Linked DNA regions of Homo sapiens. The protein of the gene in region 2 interacts with the protein of the main gene of each other region in a pairwise test. Each region holds a gene or a part of one and is shown on either strand. Other genes may lie near its edges. The genes, in order: FH and KLHL6.

Evidence for each region.
Region 1: the proteins of KLHL6 (region 2) and FH interact in binary tests that used the Homo sapiens proteins (3 or more experiments, as listed by UniProt).

What each region holds. Positions count from the first base shown.
Region 1 is NC_000001.11:241,517,675-241,521,596, forward strand, and holds the start of FH (fumarate hydratase, mitochondrial), read right to left. Parts: upstream 2,082-3,922; 5' UTR 2,049-2,081; coding exon 1,917-2,048; intron 1-1,916. UniProt on the Homo sapiens protein: Catalyzes the reversible stereospecific interconversion of fumarate to L-malate. Experiments in other species have demonstrated that specific isoforms of this protein act in defined pathways and favor one direction over the other.
Region 2 is NC_000003.12:183,554,101-183,558,022, forward strand, and holds the start of KLHL6 (kelch-like protein 6), read right to left. Parts: upstream 1,607-3,922; 5' UTR 1,554-1,606; coding exon 1,261-1,553; intron 1-1,260. UniProt on the Homo sapiens protein: Involved in B-lymphocyte antigen receptor signaling and germinal center formation.

The DNA.
Region 1 (3,922 bases), on a different chromosome or scaffold from region 2:
CTTTTGAAAACGGTCTAAGAATGATTATTTGAAATTTATAAACATTATTTATATATAAACATTATTCACATATATTACATATGTATATTCATTTATATAAGAAATGTATAAACATTATTTACATATATAAACACTATATATATGCCATCATGCTACCAAGTCAGTATCACAGTTGGTCTGCCTGTTAAATATTCTCATTCTCAATGCACTTTTTAATGCATTTTTAATAATCAATGATCACACTAATTATTCATGTGTGATTTATTTGCTTATTTAACTGCTTTGCTTATTTAATCTCCACTAAAGACAAGAATAAAACACTGCCTGTAAAACCCTATCCCCATAGGGACTGTCTTATTTACAGGGCCTGGTAAGTGGAAGGCACTCAATAAACAGTATCTTTCTATTGAATGAATTTGTATGTGTTCTTTTAAATAAAAGGTACCTTAGGGCATCAAGGGTTATGTGAAATTCTCAACATTAGCAACAGGAAGAACTTTTAACAAAACCAACAGAGATTTTGGACCTGAGAATGGTTAGAGGGCAAAAAGTACCAGAACTAGAAAAAACAAAAACTACCTCCATCTGATTTTAGCTAACATTACAATTCTAAGAGCAAAGTAGTGCTGCTATTTTTTGACATTTGCATCAACAGGATAGATTCAGAAGTTCTCCAGTCTGCTTCCCTTTACAAAACACTAAATAAACAATAAATAAATTTAAAAATATGTAAAGGTTTTAAAATGCCCTAAAATTATTCGAGCAGGGAGTTCGAGGAATACAAAACATCTCTGATTCTGTAGTATAGTTGTATATCGTAGGTATAGTGACCCAATCAAATTATCTTGAAGTTTAGAGTCCAGAAAAAGTACTGGCCCTTTGAAATACCCTAGATGGGGCACTTATTTAATGAGCACTCGCTACATGGTATTTTCACATGTGCAGTTTTGCTGAGTAGCTGTAAGTATTTCAACTTTGCATACGGATTTGAAATCACATCTCTTAGATTGCAAACCTCATGCTACACCAGTGCAGAACTGTAACTCTTCAACTATCATTTCTCAAACGTTTCCTAACAATATACATATGTATTTAAAGCTTTTTAAAAGCCTGCATTCCTAAAGATGACACTCTAAAGAGCAAAATGACTTACGTAAGCATGTCATAACCTGAACTTGGATCTTTAAGTTCTTAGCTGGCTTTCTGAATAAAAAGTACCGATTCAGCTCCTAGCCAATCTGCTCAAACATGCTTCAGAACACTATGCCCGCGGTATTCGGAATTGAAGAGTTTTACAACAATTACGGGGGAAACCATAGTCAGCCTAACAAACTGAGCATGCAATTTCAAAGGAAGTAAAATCTTCGAAGAACCTTCTACCCCACCTGGAGGGCCTGAAAGCAGTGCAGTGCCCCTTGGCGAAACAAACCACAGTTCAGAAACCACTAGATGCACAGGCGGCCAGTGTCCGGCCAGCAAGGCCCAGCTATGGGGCAGGACGGTGCGGGAGCTGCCCCTCTCCCAGCACCCTCCGCCCACGCCGGCACTGTCCTTGAGGGCAGCGCCCCGGGGCTGGGGGCCTGCGCGCCAGCAGCAGCGAAGTTACCTCAAAACGCCCCGGCCTCGGCCCGCCACGGACGGCTCCGAGGAGGCGCCGGGAGCGGGCCCAGTAGGACCCTCTCTGACAGCCCCCGTCCCTCCCCAAGCGCTCTCCCGGGCTGCGGCTCCATCCCTGCGCCGGAAGAGGCGTCCCGAGGCCGGGAGGCCCGCCACGCCGGCACGGGCGCTAAGCCCAGAGTCTGGCGCGGCCCGGACGCCCGGGGAATCTCTCCCGCCAAGTCGCGGGCGCCCAGGCCGGCAGGCAGGAGGGCTGAAGGTCACTGCGGGGAGGCCGGGGGATGGCGGCCTGCGCTCACCATTCGAGCCGCGTTCGGAGGCCAAAACGAGGGCACGGCCGCGCCACCCAAGCCGGGAGCCGAAGCTAAGGCTGCGGCTGGAGCCCGCACGAGGGGACGCGAGCGCGCGAGGAGCCGAAGTGCTCGGTACATGGTGCTGAGGGAGCTTGGGTAGAATTTCTGGGCGGCTGTGGCCACGCCTCCACGCCGGTTGTCAGAAACCGTTCCGCCCACCGGCCTCCGCTCTTATCCAATCAACAGCCTCACACCGACAGGTGGGGCAGGACCAATCGTGAATGACCAGTAAAGAATGAGGGGGCGGGTTAACTTTCTAGTAGTAGTGTGGGGTGTAAGGCCTTCGGATTCATGGGAAACTAGAAAGAAGGGAATTATGGGAAAGGAGGCTCAGGTTATTCTTGGAGCCGGTCTGATTTTTACGTGTGGCTGTTAGAAGGCGGGAGTATTAGTTGGTGAATCAGGTCGTGTTTGGTTGGTGAAATATCCTAGAAAGAAATATTTATTGTTTTATTTATCATGTAATCACTCATTACACGTTCTTACTACTGAAATCTTTCTTCATTTCTTCCAGATTGTATCTTCTGTGTAGAAATTTTGGGAAGTGCAGCAAAGTGTAGATAATGAAATAGTAATTATTCATAATCCCACAACTGAAAAATAAGCTACTTACTTATTTCTTTTAACTTATCATTTTGAGATCGCTACCGTTTCCTTTCTCTTCTTAGCCTATACCCTCAGAACTCTTTTTTTTTTTTTAATGTATTGTGGAAGACGTACACAATTATAGGGAACCTCGGAATTTTTATTATTTGTATATCGTTCTCCCAGTTTTTTGCATAGCTAATTTATACATTTTCAAATTAAAGGCATATTGTTTTAATATAATAGTTGATTACAGAAAAGCAGGAATTGATATAAAATTGCATCTGAACCACAGTTTTATCTTTTCTCTTTTCTATTGCTTGGAACCAGATGACAGTAAAGAGAGAGCGATCGGATGTTCTTAAAATCAAAAGTCCAGAACCTGCAAAGCCAAATTTATGAGTCAAACTTACAAACTTGCCAAACCTTTTGGTAACATTATGTTATTTTGTGACTTATAAATTTGACACATATTTAAAATATAAAAATTCAAATGAGATTGTAATAGTTGAACTACAATCAAAACACACTAGAAAACTGAATGCAAATTCTTTAAAACATTGCTAATAATGGAATGACGTTTTGTTTTTGTTCTCCTCCTTCCCAGCAGGTATCATTATTGTGTATATCATTATTTTGATGCATCCTTTCAGTTCTGTGTATTTTTTGCTTCATACACTAATATACAAACAATGGTTTTAATATTTTACTTTAAAGTTTTACTGTTGCATAATTGAACTCTATGCTTTTAAGATATAGCCATGATCTTTTAAAATTAATCATATTGGATCACATGAATATGAAATATTTTATTTATCCAGTTTCTTAATAAAGAACATTTTTCTTTGCTATTACACAAAATTATTTAATGAACATATGTTTATCATTTCTTCATAGATCATCTCTTTCTTCATTGTGTGGTGCCCCTCTTTATTGTTATTGTTGCTTGTCCTTTTAAACTTTTTTTAATATTGATATTTCTCTACCAATTTCATATTGGCTATTATTTGCCTGCTGTATATTTCTCATTTTATTTTATTTTTTGTTTCATTTTTGTTTCGAGCATGTCTCTTATTTCTACCATACAGTTTAACTTTTCAAAACCCAAATTAATAGCCTTTTTATAAATAGGTTATTTTAATCCCTTTTAAAAATTACCTATGACACATATTATGTTCTAGAATTTTTCAAAGCACTTTATATGTATTAATTCTTGGAACACTCAAAAACAACCCTATGAGATAGGTCCTATTATTATTCCTGTACATAGAAGAGAAAAATTGATGCCCAGGAACATCCACATATTTATTTGTGTGTTTTACTTCGATTTATTAGTGAAACTGATTTTCTATCTGCAGTAGTAATAT
Region 2 (3,922 bases):
TTTCTTTTCAAGTTCCCAAATACTTTCTTCATTATCCACATTGCCCTTGCAGGCTGGTTCCCCCATGTCCATGCTGATATGGAGAACACTGGATCAGGTGTATTCACTGGGTTCCCAGCGCTATAAAATTCCTACCCCAGGGACGTGCTCATGGGAAACACTCAATAAGTCATCCTTAGCTGAATCAAGCAGAATCAGAAAAAGAATTCCAAGAAAGATATATTGAGCATCTACTTACTATATGCTAGACACTGTGTAGGACCCTTTTCACGCTCTTGTTTAATTATGACAGCCCTGAAAGGTGATCATCATTGTGCTCACCTTACAGATGATGAAACAGACATTCAGAGCACTTTGTGACTTGCCTAAAGTTTCACTGTCAAGAAGGAACCAAGTCTCCTGACTTCAGGCCTTCCCACTATGAGATCACCAGTTTATCGTAACTAGAGGCCTCTCCCATCTAAAGCATCTTTGTAACTGCTTTCCCTTTCCCCACACTGCCTACACATAAAGAAGCCCCTAATTTGTAACAAGTCATTTGACAACTCCAGAAGAGGGGCCACATCCTTTTTCTCTATGTCTGTTGATTAACAAAGACAACATTATGTTTCCAACACCAGTCAGACCAAGGGGGAAAAAAGTCCCCATGACTTCAGTAATTTTCCATCCTTTGGAACAAGGAAATATACACAAAAGGTTTACTATAGAATGTAAGCATTGCTTTTAAATGATGCCAATCTCTCTTTTAATGTGGCCTAAATCCTAAAATTTAAAGTGTGATAAGCCGGGCGCAGCGTCTCACACCTGTAATGCCAGCACTTTGGGAGGCGGAGGCGGGTGGATCACCTGAGGTCGGGAGTTCAAGACCAACCTGACCAACATGGAGAAACCCCATCTCTATTGAAAATACAAAATTATCCGGGTGTTGTGGTGCATGCCTGCAAATCCCAGCTACTCGGGAGGCTGAGGCAGGAGAATCGCTTGAACCCAGGAGGCAGAGGTTGCGGTGAACCGAGATTGCGCCATTGCACTCCAGCCTGGGCAACAAAAGCAAAACTCCGTCTCAAAAATAAATAAATAAATAAATAATAAAATAAAGTGTGATAGTGTCCTTTCTTATATTTTAAGTAGACACACAAGCCTTAATATATATGTAAACCATAAATATCATGGCCAACTGTTCAAGATTGGGCTCTCACACTAACACACCTCTTCCTTGCAACTTGCACCCAATTTGACTCTGGTCCTAGGCATGCTGACCTGAAATAGTTGCTGGCTGCGGCAAGCACCACGCGGTGGCAGGAGAATTCCTGAATGTCCACACACAAGATGACATCTGTCAGAGCGTTTTCCATTCGCAGGGTTTCCAGGCCATTCTGAAGAATTAAGGAGAGTCCCGCGTCGTCAAATTTGACCTTTTCCCCATTTAAGATCTCGACCAAGTCTCCTGTTTTCTGGGAGGGCTCATCTGTAGAAGGTGCCAGGGGCCCTTCCAAACTCTTCTCGACCACATCACCCATGGTCCAGGCGCCCCTTTGTCCTGCCATCAACATCGAGACTGAAGGAGCGCCCAAGTGTCAGGCAGGCCCCATTGCAGGAGCTGAGCGGATTTCCTGTGCAGGGCCCTCCACTTATCACCAGCTGTCACACACACATAACAGGAAGTCTCGCACTTTCTCATCCTGTTACTACAAATGCCAGCAACTTCTATTCTTCTTCTTTCTGTGAGTAATCACAGGGTTAGAAATTACTTAGAATAGGTGTGTGGGAGGGGGTTCTGGAAGAGGAGTGTCCTCTCAGAGTCCACTGTGAGTGCTGTGTGTTTATTTTGGTGCATCTCCCACCTCATATCCGTGAGCAGGAAGCCTCCGGTGGTGGCTGTTACATTTGTACTCCTAATGCTATCAATAACCCAAGTCGTCAATGAGGGGATGGACAGGAGACAGTCTATAATCCTCCTGCTTCACATTTGTACTCCTAGTGGCTCAATAACCCAAGTCGTCAGCGAGGGGATGGACAGGAGACAGTCTATGATCCTCCCACTTCCTCCTCCCAGGAGTCTGAGACCCCACAATGATCCAACAACCGTGCTTTGTAAACCATGGAAACCCCACTTATCCCTGACATTCTCATTTCTGGCGGCACTGCAGATCGTCTATCTTCATCCTCCTCCCTACCCAGGGGAAAACAACGTCATGGCAAACTTTCATGTCTTCCCCCACCAAAAAAAATGTCTATTGTTTCGAATATGCTTTGGGGGCACAGAAGAAATGGTTTCCAAAACTCCATCAACAGCATCTTCTCAGAGGATGAGTCAGGGTGGGTCTACACCGAATTGCCATAGCACGTCTCAGATTAGCCCAACATCTACTGACCGTGCATCTAACGGTGGATCCTGAAGTATTTTCATTACCTCTGCATGTCTCAGTTAAGTAGTAATAACTGTCATTATTAAAATCCCATGATATCCTGGGGAAGTTATAGGAGCGTATCAGTTAGCGTTCTCTCACGCCCAACAGTAATGCTTTACCAGGTTGCTAGGTATTTCTTAGCCCAGCAAACTTGACATCTAAAATTAACCATTACAATTACAGTCATACCCAGCATAATGATATTTCAGTCGATGATGGACTCCAGAGAGACAGAACCAAAAGGATACCTAGAGAGGCATAGCAGAGGGAAATTATTAGGGGAATTGGCTCACGTGATTATGGAGACTGAGAAGTCGCATGACAGACTGCTGAGAGCTCAGTTCAAGTCCAAAGGCCTCAGAACCAGAGAAGATGGTATAACTCTCAGTCCAAAGCCAAAGGCCTGAGAATCCAGGGGGTGGGGAGACTGGTGTAAGTCCTGAAGTCCAAAGGCAGGGGATCCTGGAGTCCTGTTGTTCAAGGCAGGAGATGACTGTATCCCAGCCTCAGGAGATAGAGACATCGACCTTTCTTCTGTTTTTGTTTTCTCTGGGCCCCTGGCTGATTGGATGGTGCCCACCCACACTGAGAGTGTATCTTCTCTACCGAGTCCACTCAGACTCACTAATCTCTCCTGGAAACAACCTCACAGACACGCCCCATGGTAATGCTTTAACAGGTTGCTAGGTATTTCTTAGCCCAGTAAACTTGACATCTAAAATTAACGGTCACAAGTACAGTCATGCCCAGCACAATGACATTTCAATCGATGATGGACTGAATATACAATTGTGGTCCCAAAAGATTATAATGGAGCATATAAAGAAACCTGACGGCCGGGCGTGGTGGCTCATGCCTGTAATCCCAGCACTTTGGGAGACCAAGGCAGGGGGATCACAAGGTCAGGAGCTCAAGACCAGCCTGAGCAACATGGTGAAACCCCCATCTCTACTAAAAATACAAAAATTAGCCAGTCGCGGTGGCGTACACCTGTAATCCCAGCTACTTGGGAGGCTGAGGAAGGAGAATCGCTTGAACCCGGGAGGTGGAGGTTGCAGTGAGCTGAGATTGTGCCATTGCACTCCAGCCTGGGCAATAAGAGCGAAACTCTGCCTCAAAAAAAAAAAAAAAGTCATGGAAAAATAATGCCATTCACAATGGTAATAAAACATATGTAAATGCCTAGCAATAACAGCAACCAGCAACATAAAGAAAACTAACAAACTTTACTAAGAGTTTCGAAAGAAAACTTAAATAAATATACCAAGTTCCTTTATGGAAAGACTAAATATTATTAAAAGGACCAATTCTTTCCGAATACATTTATAGGTTTATTTTACTCTAATAAAAATTACAAGAAAATTTGGAGTTTAGGTTTGTTTGTTTGTTTGTTTTTGAGACGGAGTCTTACTCTGTTGCCCAGGCTAGAGTACAGTGGTGCGATCTCAGCTCACTGCGACCTCCGCTTCCCAGGTTCAAGCGATTCTCCTGCCTCAGCCTCCCAAGTAGCT